Linked DNA regions of Homo sapiens. The protein of the gene in region 3 purifies or fractionates together with the protein of the main gene of each other region. This does not show direct contact. Each region holds a gene or a part of one and is shown on either strand. Other genes may lie near its edges.

What was found. The genes of interacting proteins can lie anywhere in the genome.
Region 1: the proteins of GSTA1 (region 3) and ZBTB21 purify together in Homo sapiens (affinity purification with mass spectrometry; 2 studies listed by BioGRID and IntAct, with this or other methods). This does not show direct contact.
Region 2: the proteins of GSTA1 (region 3) and ACOX1 purify together in Homo sapiens (affinity purification with mass spectrometry; 2 studies listed by BioGRID and IntAct, with this or other methods). This does not show direct contact.

Annotation. Positions count from the first base shown.
Region 1 is NC_000021.9:42,003,861-42,008,236, reverse strand, and holds part of ZBTB21 (zinc finger and BTB domain-containing protein 21), read left to right. Parts: exon of another isoform or gene 1-417; intron 418-4,376. UniProt on the Homo sapiens protein: Acts as a transcription repressor.
Region 2 is NC_000017.11:75,972,667-75,977,042, reverse strand, and holds part of ACOX1 (peroxisomal acyl-coenzyme A oxidase 1), read left to right. Parts: intron 1-3,257; coding exon of another isoform or gene 3,258-3,418; intron 3,419-4,376. UniProt on the Homo sapiens protein: Involved in the initial and rate-limiting step of peroxisomal beta-oxidation of straight-chain saturated and unsaturated very-long-chain fatty acids.
Region 3 is NC_000006.12:52,790,145-52,794,842, reverse strand, and holds the end of GSTA1 (glutathione S-transferase A1), read left to right. Parts: intron 1-576; coding exon 577-718; intron 719-1,855; coding exon 1,856-1,987; coding exon of another isoform or gene 1,988-2,119; exon of another isoform or gene 2,120-2,795; intron 2,796-2,862; coding exon 2,863-2,985; 3' UTR 2,986-3,472; downstream 3,473-4,698. UniProt on the Homo sapiens protein: Glutathione S-transferase that catalyzes the nucleophilic attack of the sulfur atom of glutathione on the electrophilic groups of a wide range of exogenous and endogenous compounds.

The DNA of each region.
Region 1 (4,376 bases), on a different chromosome or scaffold from region 3:
ACTGCGCCCAGCCGAAGGGACAGTTTTAGTTGTCCGCAAAGCCAATGGAAGTAGAGAGAGCAGATTATAAGCTATGTAAGAGCTAGGTTTGACCAGGTCACAGTGATAGGCTATAAGGGAAAGAGAAGAAATTTTAGGGTCTGGCAACACACCAAAGTAAATCGGGAATATGTGAGGACAAACAGATGTGGGAGCAGGGACGAGAGTTGTGGAGTTTAAGTACCATGCTGGACCTGAGGATATACTGTGATGGAACCGTTCAGTAGGTACCTGAGAGGCTGGAGCCTCAAGAGTCTAAACAGAGATACAGATTTGGGAATCATCGTCCAGTAGTGATTAAAGTCACAAGGTCTAATAGAAAAAGCAAAGAATACTGCCACGTTTTGGGGCTCTGTAACGGATGCTGGAGAAATAAAGGTGAGCCAGTCCAGGTCTTGAGCCTCAAGTTTGATGATTTCTCTCTTTGCCCTGTACCTAGCTTGCCAGGCCTTGTGCTGGGCATCAGGGATACGTGCATGCAAACAAGGGTTCTTTCTTTAGGGAGTCCCTTGGGGGAGACACATGTAAAAGAAGATTAATTGAAGAAGTTGTGGTGTTATTACAGAGAGATGAAGTATTGTGGTAGTTTAGATGACTGAGCTGCTGGCTAGGGGCAAATTACAAAAGCTTTGTAGAGTCGGTGACATTTCAACTGGATCTTTCGAAAGAAGTTAGCCAAGTAAAGGAGAGGGAAGAGAGAGATTTTGGGTGGCAGAGGCTGGATATGCAAGTTTGTAGAGTAGATGGTAAGTAGTGTCCAATAAGGGTGGAGAGATGAATTGTAACCAGAGTATGAAAAGTCTTGTATGCCAGTCTGTAGTTTGGATTTTCTTTAGGAATAGAAAAATCAGTACAGTACTCCAAAGCAGGGCAGTGATGTAATACGCTTTACTTCAGCAAAACAACTAACAGCCATAATTTTCACTCGTGCATTTAATTGGAGTGAAGAGTACAGAAAAGTCAAATCTTTATTGTTGTGGAAGATAACATGTTGAGCATTGATAATGCCAAAAGATATTAAATAGATTATCAGTCTTTAAATAGCTTTCAGTCCTCTTGGGGAGACACAAATGACTAACAATAAAGGCAGTGAATAAACATGTAAATGGTGCTGAAGTTGAGGTATTTGCACGTTATAAGATGAAGTAGTCAAGGAAGGTATATTCATTTGCTTGGGCTGCTATAACAAAGTACTGCAGACTGGATGACTCAACAGATTTCTTTTCCCACAGTTCTGAAAGCTAGAAGTCCAAGAACAAGGTGTCAGCAGGGTTGGCTTCTTCTGAGGCTTCTCTTTGGCTTATAGATGGCATCTTCTTGTCCCTACTTGGTCCTTCCTCTGTTCATGTCTCTGTGCTAATCTTCCTCTCCTGTAAGAACACCAGTTACATCAGTTTAGGGGTCACCCTAAAGCCCTCATTTTAACTTAATTACCTCTTAGAGACCATGTCTCCAAGTATGACTACATTCTCCAGGTACTGGAGGCTAAGTCTTTATCATATAAATTTGGGAGGGAAGAGTGGGGACACAATTCAACCCATAATGGAAGATTTTATGGAGTAGCTGGAACTTGACCTGAGCTTTGAAAGGTGATTAATATTCTGAGTAGTGTGCTGAGGAGGGGTTTAGGTGAGTTCTAGGACTTTCCAGATTGGGGAGTGGGAGAAGTCAGATGTGCAGGTTAGGTCTTAGAGACAGAGTATCTGGAGCAGAAAGGGATCACTAGGGAATAACTAAGGGAAAGAAAAAAAAATTTTTTTTTTTTTTTTGAGACGGAGTTTCGCTCTGGCTCAGCTGTCACCCAGTGGTGACTGGAGTGTAGTGGCACGATCTCAGCTCACTGCATCCTTCACCTCCCAGGTTCAAGCGATTCTCCTGCCTCAGCCTCTCGAGTAGCTGGGATTACAGGCGCCCGTCACCACACCCGGCTAATTTTCGTATTTTTAGTAGAGACAGGGTATTACCATGTTGGCCAGGCTGGTCTCGAACTCCTGACCTCAGGTGATCCACCCGCCTTGGCTTCCCAAAGTGCTGGGATTACAGGCATGAGCCACCACACCTGGCTAAGAAAATTTTAAAAGTCATTTGAAACCAGATTTTATAGAGACCTTTAGTCATTGTTTTAAAAATTTTAGCCTAATGGAGAACAATTGTTTTTATTATTTTATTTTTAAACAGGATCAAAGCTGGTTCTCTTCATTCAGATCTTAGGTCTCAGCTGAAATATTCCATCAAGGTATTTTCTGACCATCCTCTCTAGGCACTGCATCCAGCGATATAGCACCTTATTTATTTCCACCATAACTTTTAGCAGAATCTGAGGTTGTCTTTTTTATTTGTTTCCTTAGCATCTGATTTATCTCACTAGAAAGTGGGGGTCTTGTCTGTTTGGTGCACCCCTATATTTCAGATAAATCTAACCATGCCTTGTACAGAATTGGAATTCAGTAAATAAGTTGAATTAATAATAGGAATATTTAACGTGTATGTTGGGTGAGCGATCAAAGCTTTGTTCTAAGAAGCTCAGTCTAGAAGCTGTATTAGGATGGGTTTGGAAGGCATGACAAGGAACAGTGAATACCACGTGGAAATATATTAGGGTTCTTTAATAACAAGAACAGAAACTGTCTGGCTTGAATGGAAAAAGTAGTTTATTGTAAAGATACAGGGTTGCTCTTGGACTTAAAAGAAAAGCTAAAAAACTGGGCCAGGAAGAAGGACAAAAACCAAGCTAACTCCAGGAATCTATGTAGCAGGCACTAGCAAGGTTGCATTTTCAGGCCTCCGTTGAGATAAGTCAGCTTCATTTATTTATTGCCTTTGTCATTCTTCTCAGGATTCATATTCCGAGGACAAAGTTTCTGATTGGTTTGGCTTTGGTTGTATGGTTAGCCCAGAGGTAGGGGAGAGGAGCACATCAGGCTGTAGCACACAGTGGGACAAGAGCAGTTCTTCTATAGCAAAATCATGGGGCTGTTAACAGGAGGTGGAATGGCTGTGTAGTGGCTGGAAGAAAACAGCAAAGGCTGTGACCAGAGTCTGCTCTGCTAAGGTGCAAAGGAGCTTGAACTATGTTGGAGTAGGATCATTCTCCTGAATGTGGCCAAGAACAACCATCAAACCAAAATCAAACCCCCTTGTTAGAGACTGAAAGTGTGGTGAAATGGAATACAAGATAGTAACATGACTCCTCTTGAAGGATTGGATAAGCTAGTCTAGGTTTGAAATCTGAGGATATTTGCGTTGTCACCAAGTGAGTGATGATAAGACCGAAACTCAGAGGCAACTTCCTATCACCATCAAATAGTAAAATCCAATGGTAGGTGTTACGGCTAAATCCTGAAATGAGGGTTTGGGGATAAGCAGTCTGTGTGTGTGTGTTTATGTTCCAAAGTCAAATGTAGATGCTTTGTTTTTTTAACTAGGTATTTGCCTTGTGTTACATGCATTCCCTCTTTTTTCTAGTATCATGGTTAGGACTATAGAAGCAATCCCCAACATTCCAAAGGACCCATGTTCCCAGAGTTGAAATCTAGGTTGATGCTGGATGTAAAGAGCCATTTTCCTGTAGAACTGGTAGTAGCAGTTTTGTGGCTAGTCTGGGAGCCAACTTAATTTATAGTGTACCTTAGCTATGACACTAGTCCAAGTAGGTGAGATTATTTTGATCCCTTTCCATCTCTGTTTCTCACCCCCTCACTCACCCCCTGGTACCCTTCTGAGTGCCAAGTCGCTTTGCTTTCCTCTGCTTCTCACTAGAATGCTCTATATTCGAAATTGCCTACCTTCCCTCTCCCTCAAAAATCTTAATTCCATACAACTGATTTAACACTCTATAAAGAGGAAAGTATTTGCATTGAATTAATTTATGTTAAGATATGAGGCCGGGCGCGGTGGCTCATATCTTACAGGTGGCTGGCCTGTAATCCCAGCACTTTGGGAGACCGAGGTGGGCAGATCGCCTGAGGTCAGGAGTTCGAGACCGGCCTGACCAATATGGTGAAACCCCATTTCTACTAAAAATACAAAAATTAGCCAGTCCTGGTGGCTGGCGCCTGTAGTCCCAGCTACTCAGGAGGCTGAGACAGGAGAATTGCTTGAACCCAGGAGGCGGAGGTTGCAGTGAGCCAAGATCATGCCACTGCACTCCAGCCTGGGTGACAGAGTGAGACTCTTCAAAAAAAAAAAAAAAAGATGTGAGATATGAGTCCCCCACCCCCTTAGCATTTATTACCTGAGGAATTTGAAGTGATGGTATGAAATAATCTTCTGGAATCCAGTTCTGAAGGGTTTTGTAGCCATTCCAGGGAATTGGAAGTTGAGGCCAGGGCAAGCCC
Region 2 (4,376 bases), on a different chromosome or scaffold from region 3:
CTGGGCAACAAAGAGAGACTCTGTCTCAAAAAAAAAAAAAAAAAAAAAAAAGACTTTTTTGCCTTAACCTAAACAAACACTATTACATGATCCTAGTACAAGATTATTTTGGCCTATAGCATTTTTTTCTCATTTATTCCTGGGCATTTTCTCTTTTAGGTTTCTCCATTTTAAAGGAACTCCAGTATTTTCATCGGTAAAGACTAAATCGTATGAGTGGTGTATAGACTAGAACCAAGCTAAATAGAACATGTTGCACGTTCTGCCTTTATGGTAATAATGGTCACTGCCTCTAGTGCCTTTGGTATCGATTTTCAGCTTGACTTGGGTTATTTTTGTGAAGATGAAATGGTTTACTCTGGCACTTTGGACTTTCCTCAGAGCTCCACTCAGTTTTAAACGAAAAAATTTTGTTTATTTATTTTTGGTAGTTCAAATCAGCATACTTCCAAATGGTCTGTTTTGTTTTTGAAGTTTGTAACTCATGGCTGTGGGGATATTGAGATAGAGTAACTCCTCCTAGAAGATTATGTTACTGATACCTGTGTTGTGTTTGTAAATTTGAAAAAATTAGTAAGATTTTATTCCTTCTTGAAACGTCAGGAAAAAAGTGGGTTGAGTGTGTGTGTGTGTGTTTGAATGGGTGGTGCAGTGCATTTCAAAGCTGATAGAGATGATTTCATAACCTGTGACCTGTTGATAATGTGAACCAGACTCGAGTGAGGTCACAATGAAATAGAACAAAGTCTTTTATGCGGGTTAAAGATTCATGGACACCGGGAAGTTGTTTTGTGTATCATTTTTCATGTGAAGTATTAAAGTACAAACTTTAACACACCCTTTGACACACTTCCAATGTCCTTAGGATATGACAAGGAGATCAGTTTTTAAGTAAGAGAAGGGGTTTGTAAATGAGTCCTGGAAATTATCGCATGCTATCGAGTTAAAGCCTCGGTTATATAATCTCATCGATTATAACTCACACCAGTGTTTTGTGTACCACTAAGAAAGAAAGAATGCTGCCAGTTAACCGTGACATGCTATTAATTGTGAAATACATCACCTTTCTTTCTTTTCTTTTCTTTCTTTCTTTCTTTTCTTTTCTTTCTTTTCCTTTCTTTTTCTTTCTCTTTCTCTTCCTCTTTCTTTTTCTTTCTCTCTCTTTCTTTCTCTCTCTCTCTCTCTCTCTGCATTTCCATTTATTTCCATTATCAGCAGGTGAAGAGGCATCTGCCACCTCACCCAGCTAACTTTTGTATTTTTAGTAGAAATGGGGTTTCACCATGTTGGCCAGGCTGGTCTCGAACTCCTGGCCTTGTGATCCACCCGCCCCTTCCTCCCAAAATGCTGGGATTACAGGCATAAGCCACTGCGCCTGGCTGAGAAAACATTTTTAACTGATGTTAATGAGCAGCTTCTAAACACATGATTAGGACGCAGAAGTCGTTCCCTCTGGTGGAATCTATAATGATTACATTAATTCATTTTGATTAATTAGAAATATTCGTATCTAAGAGCATCCATGTTGAGAGTTTTTTGTTTCTAAGTGGATTATGATTTATGTAAGATAGAAAAGACAATGGGACTGGGGCATGGTGGCTCACGCCTGTAATCCCAGCACTTTGGGTGGCTGAGGTGGGCAGATCACTTGAGGCCAGGCCACTTCATGACCAGCCTGGCCAACATGGCAAAACGCCTTCTCTACTAAAATACAAAATTAACCGGGCTTGGTGGCACACGCCTATAATCCCAGCTACTTGGGAGGCTGAGGCATGAGAATCACTTGAACCTAGGAGGCAGAGGTTGCCGTGAGCTGGGATCACACCACTGTACTCCAGCCTGGGCAACAGAGGGAGACTGTCTCCAAAAAAGAAAAAAAAAGAAATGGCGGGGATAACCGTGTAGTACTTATTTAGGAAATAGAAAAATAAGGGTATATTGTGTTTACTATTATTTCTTTCTTTCTTTCTTTTTTTTTTTTTTTTTTTTTTTGGAGACAGAGTCTCGCTCTGTCGCCCAGGCTGGAGTGCAGTGGTGCGATCTCGGCTCACTACAAGCTCCGCCTCCCGGGTTCACGCCATTCTCCCGCCTCAGCCTCCTGAGTAGCTGGGACTACAGGAGCCCACCACCACACCCGGCTAATTTTTTTTTTGTATTTTTCGTAGAGACGGGGTTTCACCATGTTAGCCAGGATGGTCTCGATCTGATGGTCTCGATCTCCTGACCTCGTGATCCACCCGCCTTGGCCTCCCAACGTGCTGGGATTACAGGCGTGAGCCACCGCGCCCGGCTACTATTATTTCTTTTAAGGTGGTAGTTTGGTTTCAGGGTCCCCCAGCACTGCAATGGCAGCCTATCCCTTCTGTCCTTTAGTTCATGCTCTGCTCATTGCACAGGTTAGGATAAACTGGTAGTAACATTGCTTCCTAATCATGTGTTGAGAAGTCGTGAAGATCAGTTAGATGAGATGTATTTTGTACTTTAAACTTTTTAGATACGAGCTTTGTCAAAGTACAAAATTGATCCCTATAAAATCTATGACACAGCACAGCCAAGGCCAACTACTGTGGATTCTGTTTTGTAAGAAGAGAGTTGAGGACTAAATTTCAATGTGATGTAGAGTTAATCCGTAGTAATGTTCATTGACCATTGGGGATAAATTTTTACATGCCCACATTACTTATTGTAAACCCTGAAGACCTTTAGCGATGTATGATTCTGCCCTGGAATATGTATTTACTCTTTTGGATATTTGCTTATATTATCTAGGGAAACATAGTTGAAATTATTTCTTCCTTGGAGCTCTTGTTAACAGCGCTATAAATAAGTGTTCTATGGAGTTATTTTTGCTCTTTGAAACAAACAGGTAAAACCTAAATAAAGCAAAAAAAAAAAACCACACACATTCTAAAAAATTCAACCAATCAAACCAGCAAATAACACCAACAACCTCCCCTTCCAAAAATTAGAGAAGTTTTTATGCTAAAACTTAGGTAGAATTTGCTTAGTGGATTAAATGTAAATACGAAATGAACTGTGGGAACTGTGGCCTTGAAATAATTAGAAGAAGAGAGATCATCAGGTTCTGCTGCTGGCTTTTTAGGTAGTAAAATGGTAAATCTTATATTTAATTTCATAAGAAGGGGGTTTACATTTTCCTGACCTTCTCCTTGAAGGCCAAAGCTGTTTGGCAAGAAGGGGTTGTAGGATGCAGTTTCTAAAGGAAGGCTGAGATCCTTTTCTCTTCTCTCCTGTAGACTACATTTGGTCAATTTTGTGGAACCTGTGGGCCTCAATTACTCCATGTTTATTCCTACCTTGCTGAATCAGGGCACCACTGCTCAGAAAGAGAAATGGCTGCTTTCATCCAAAGGACTCCAGATAATTGGCACCTACGCCCAGACGGAAATGGGCCACGGTTAGTCCACATTGAGGGTCTGTGGGTAACCCACCTCAGGACATCAGTTAACAGTGATTGCTGGCATTTGACTTTTTTCTGCTGCTACCTGTTTGGGATTCTATTTTTAAGTTGTTAAGTCAAAATTCAACTTCTTGTTTTCTCCTAGACATTTTCCCTGGAAACTGGTCCAGGGCTCTGGCCTATAAACGTCATTCACTGTTATTTCCTAAAGCCTTTTATTATTGAACAGCTTGAAAAGATGGGGTTTACAGTGCAGCGGGGAACCCCATTATGTTACTCTGGGTCTAATGAGTAAAGACTTTGTTGGAAATTCTTCAGAGGGTTAGTGCCTCAGCAATATCTGGAAAGCGCCTCTCTGCTCTAATGCAGTTAAAGCTGTGGATTTTAATGGGGGCAGCAGGCAGTGGCAGCTACCTGTCTCATCTCATTGCCCACTAGCAGGGTTATAAGGCAGTTTGGAAAAAAGTCCATGATTCTCTTCATCTGACTTCAGTCTTTTTAGACATTTTTTCCCCTACATGTCTGGGAACTCTTGTGTTGCCAGTAATTCTTTGTTAAATTGTTCCTAAATATCTGGCTTCCTTCAAAAAGTTTTGCTTTTGATCTTAATGTGAAATAGGTTTGTTTTCATAGACAAGGCCATTGGCAGGTTTGAGTGTTTGGAATTTGAACTGCCCAGCCTCATGTCTAATTATCAAAATGGCAGGAGTAAAGAAAGGGAAAGAAAAAGGGATGCAGATATCAGGGAAACATCATTTTGTGTTTGATTGCTGATTTCAGTGTGTGAATTGGTTTAAGGAAAATGTTATTTATTGTCATCTCCATGGGTACTGCAGCTTTCTGGTCATGGTTTGATGTTCCAGACACTTTACTAAACACTCAAGACTTCAACTTCAAGATGGTCAGTACTGAAATTATAAGCCTGAAAGAAAGGTTTGTAAAGGAAGATAAGATT
Region 3 (4,698 bases):
GTCTCAGGAAAGGCACACATGGCTAGAGTTGCGCAACAGCACATGGAAAGGGCTGTGGAAATGTGTTTCATGGGTGTAATTGAAAGAACTGCAAATATGGGGCATAGAAGCAGCCCTGGGAGCTGTAAAATGATGAGAGAGGACAAGGAATATGGCTGACATGGCTGTGCCAGGGACTCTCTTAGGATTACTTAGGAAGCAGGTCTTTGGCCATTTGACTCACACTAAGTTCATGCACAGAACAAACCACAATGGAGATGATAAATCTTGGCACAGCATCAGTGGGTACTGGCAGTGATTCTGCCAATTTCTCTCATGACTGTGACCACCGACGTTCTTTTTACCTGTATTAGGTCATGTGTGTAACAAAATTTAGAGATCTATCTACCTTGATAGGTTAAGAGATAAATGTTAATATACCTGTAAAACTCAGAGCATAATGACTAGACTATAAAAGGCACCCACTGGAGGTGAATTATTTTGCCATCACCTGATACTCTACTCCCTTAGGTTTTTATAAACCTATAAAATCTAAGGCAAAAGGTATTTGACCATTTGGTTGTTTCTGTCTTTCAGGATTGATATGTATATAGAAGGTATAGCAGATTTGGGTGAAATGATCCTCCTTCTGCCCGTATGTCCACCTGAGGAAAAAGATGCCAAGCTTGCCTTGATCAAAGAGAAAATAAAAAATCGCTACTTCCCTGCCTTTGAAAAAGTAAGTGAAGCAGTTCAGTGTTTTGGGGAACTGAGTTTAGAGGCCAATAGAAAAATAGTGGCTGGGCATTCCTGGGTCACTGATCTTCACTTTCAGTGAGACTTCCTGAACACCAATGCAGCACTCTGACTCTCAAGGCATTTTATGAAAATAGACTTGGAGAAACAATTGTATCATTTATACCCAAGCTATACTTTTCCAGTAAAATTTTAATTTACTGGACCCCAACATGGAATTACCTGTTCAACAAGATTTCATGTTCATAAGTAGAATGTGGGCTCTGGACCACACTAGAGGTTGCTGTTGAGTCTATGGAACCCCATGGACTTTGACTGAACAGGGGCATGATGAAAGCGATCCATCAGAAAATATTCTGGCACCATATGCAGGAAGATAGGAGACCAATTGCCCAACCAGAGAATACTGTAGCGTTTCAGGGATGGGTATTTTTTAAAAGGAGAGTGATTGTGGGATGCAGAGGAAGATTTTTTAAAATGGATTTTAGAGTAAGTTGCAGACATCAGTGCAGTTCACCCGTAAACGCTTCAGCTTGCAGATTATAACATAGTGCCAGTTGGGAGTGAGAGTCAATGCTGTAAGAAAGATGAATTCAGGTTCACCCAGGTTTCCTACAGATCCCAGGGAGATAGAGCAGGGAATGAGGAGAGCAGACAAAGAGAAATGAGGACTCTGAAATAGTCTCCTCCTGGGGAAGAGTGTTGTCATGAAGGTGGAGTCACTGCCCAAGGGAGATTGGAGAGGGAGAGAGCAGAATGTAGAGCCACATCCTGAATGTGAGGGCTCCACGCTGTAGGGCCTGGGGCAGACAGAACACATGGAGGCAGGTGCTAAGCCCCTGGCCCATGTGGAAGAAGCAAGCTGCGTGGGTGGTGTAGATGCCACAGTGATGTAGAATGAGAAGAGAAAATGGGAGCCTGAGCTACAACTGAGGAGTGAGTAGAGTTACAGTTCTTACTCTCTCATTCATTCAGATAATGTGGAGAAAGCTCTGGATTTCTGCACCCATGCAGTAAGGCAACAGAGGTGGGGAAAGTCAGGGTGGAGAGGCTCCGAAAGAAGCAGGGGTCCTAGCCTGGGTGTGCATGTGTTCCTGATCTGATTCCTCCCATTCTCCAGGTCTTAAAGAGCCATGGACAAGACTACCTTGTTGGCAACAAGCTGAGCCGGGCTGACATTCATCTGGTGGAACTTCTCTACTACGTCGAGGAGCTTGACTCCAGTCTTATCTCCAGCTTCCCTCTGCTGAAGGTGACCCATTTCACAGCCCAGAGAGGCAGCCCCACATCTCCCATCTTGGGATCTTGTATCTGGGCCCTGCGACTGACCAAGTTTTGCCCCAGTCTTCTCCAGGCCTTCAGTGCCCCAAGGTCTCCAAAATGAGCTTCCAGGCTCCAATTTTGAGGAATGAAAACACTTTTGTTATGGAAAGGAAATCTGTGCTGCATGCTACCCCACAAAGAGTATTTTGCCCTTTATTATGGAAAGAACCCAGGGCCCAGCATCTCTCCCCATCCCTCTATTTCAATGTGGTTTCTGTTCCTGAGTTCTCTGTGATGTCCTTTATCCCATATGTGCCCACAATGAGCCGGTCTGAGCAGAGCCCTTTCCATCTGGTTTCCTCCCTGGGCTCCGGCTCCTGCTGTCTGACATTGTGTTCCTCTCTGCACAGCTCTCCAGAACACTGGCCCCCCACACTGTATCTCTCACTGAGAAAAGGTGGTCCCATGGTTTGTCTTTAATATTTTCTATAACTATTCCCTTCCCAAATAATTTCCCCATGTTTTCACTTCTGCTTAGAGACTCATCTGTGTTGATATCTCACAGGCACATTATTTTTTCTTGTCTTATACAAGAGTCACTAATCTATAGGATTAGTGTGTAAGGAGAAAGATAGAGATGACTGAACTGATTAAAACTTCAAGACATCTTTGGGGAAAATAAAGTGAGCTACATGTCCTTCCCCTTATCTTCATTTCTCACTGGGTGTCTGTTTCTGCCTCCATGCTTGTGCTGATGGAGCAGACTCACTTGGTCTTTGCAGGAGGGGCTCAGATTCCCTGGGTCATGTTAATGGTGGTGTCAGCCCTTGGCTTCACTCTGAGGCTGTGCTTTATGAATTACAGGCCCTGAAAACCAGAATCAGCAACCTGCCCACAGTGAAGAAGTTTCTACAGCCTGGCAGCCCAAGGAAGCCTCCCATGGATGAGAAATCTTTAGAAGAAGCAAGGAAGATTTTCAGGTTTTAATAACGCAGTCATGGAGGCCAAGAACTTGCAATACCAATGTTCTAAAGTTTTGCAACAATAAAGTACTTTACCTAAGTGTTGATTGTGCCTGTTGTGAAGCTAATGAACTCTTTCAAATTATATGCTAATTAAATAATACAACTCCTATTCGCTGACTTAGTTAAAATTGATTTGTTTTCATTAGGATCTGATGTGAATTCAGATTTCCAATCTTCTCCTAGCCAACCATTTTCCTGGAATTAAAAATTCAGTAAAAAAGGAAACTATAGATTATGTGGTTTGTTTGACTTTTCCAAGAATTGTCCCGTAACATACAATTTGTCATACAATCTATTAAAATGTCAATGTAGAAATGCACTTCTGACATTTTCAGGTATGCACAGGAGAAGAGTTACCATCCTGGATAATGGCATAAAGACATTTTCTTCTTTTCCTGGACAGTCATTTTATTTCTGATAAAAGCGTTCTTTCTTATGCATTTGCAAAACAATGATTCTGTCTGCTGTGGATTCCTCAGTTTTCTAGGAGGTGAGGAAATACTGAAGAGCAAACAGACCCACCCTCTGCTCTCAGGCCACCCTATTGTCCCTTACAGTGTGTGTGCTCCTGGCTCATCCTCACTCTGCTCCTTAAGGCTCTGTGGGGTCCCAGGCATAAGCCTTCTCTCAGTTCCTTCAGTGCCACTCAGGCCTGGCTGCCACGATACAGATGGTATATGTGAAATACAAATAACTATATGCAAAATCATTTTTCCCTGGTGTGTCACTGTGCCAGAATGCTTAGATTAGGAGTGCTTTCTAGCTCCACCCCCATACTGGTCCCATAGTGCTAATCTCTCCCAGGACACCTGGGCTTCTGCAATTTGCACTCTCCTCCTCTTAGAGGGAGCTTCCCCACAGTTGGCAGAGGTGGTTGAGGGAGCAGACAAACACACAGGCTTCCTACCTGCAGCTTCACTTTGCTCTAGTCTCTTCTCCACTTACAACCAGAGTAGTTTTTCCAAAATACAAATTGGAAAAATACTCACAGAATTCTTCAGTGAGTCCTGACTGCATATACAATGCATCCTCACACCTGTCTTCACTCCGTGATCTTCAGCCCAGTCAACTCTCCGAGCATGGTGGGGCCTCTTGCCTTCCTGCCTGGGTGCGTTTGCTAGCCCTGCCTGGCAAGCTCCTTCCCAGTGGACACACTTAACACTACCTCATTGCTTCCCAGGAGCACTGGGCTGTCCTCTGCCCTCCACAGAGTCCCAGTGAGCCTCTAATAACACCTGAGGGCCACTGTGTCTGCTCCCCTGTACTGTGAGCCTGTGGTGTGAGGCTTGGCCTGCTGGGTCCCCAGTGCTTCATCACTAATGGACAATGACATCTGCACAGACCCATGCACAGCTCTATGCAACTCCAGAACCTGGGTATATGAGATTGGGCTTTGAGAACTCACAAACCCCCACACTCTCTACCTGTCTCTATTCATTCATTAATTTCTAAAAAAAAAAAAAAAAAATTGACTCATATCCCTCAAATGCTTTGTAAGGACCTTGCTTGCATGCTGACCAAAATAAACAAACTGCTAAGAAATTTTTATGGGACACTTACATGAACTAGAACGCTGGAGCTTTGATGAAATTAAAGAATTATAGAATTTTAATATGATAAGAGATTATCATATTAAACACAATCATAGTGTGATTATGTTTAGAAAAGAAGTTCT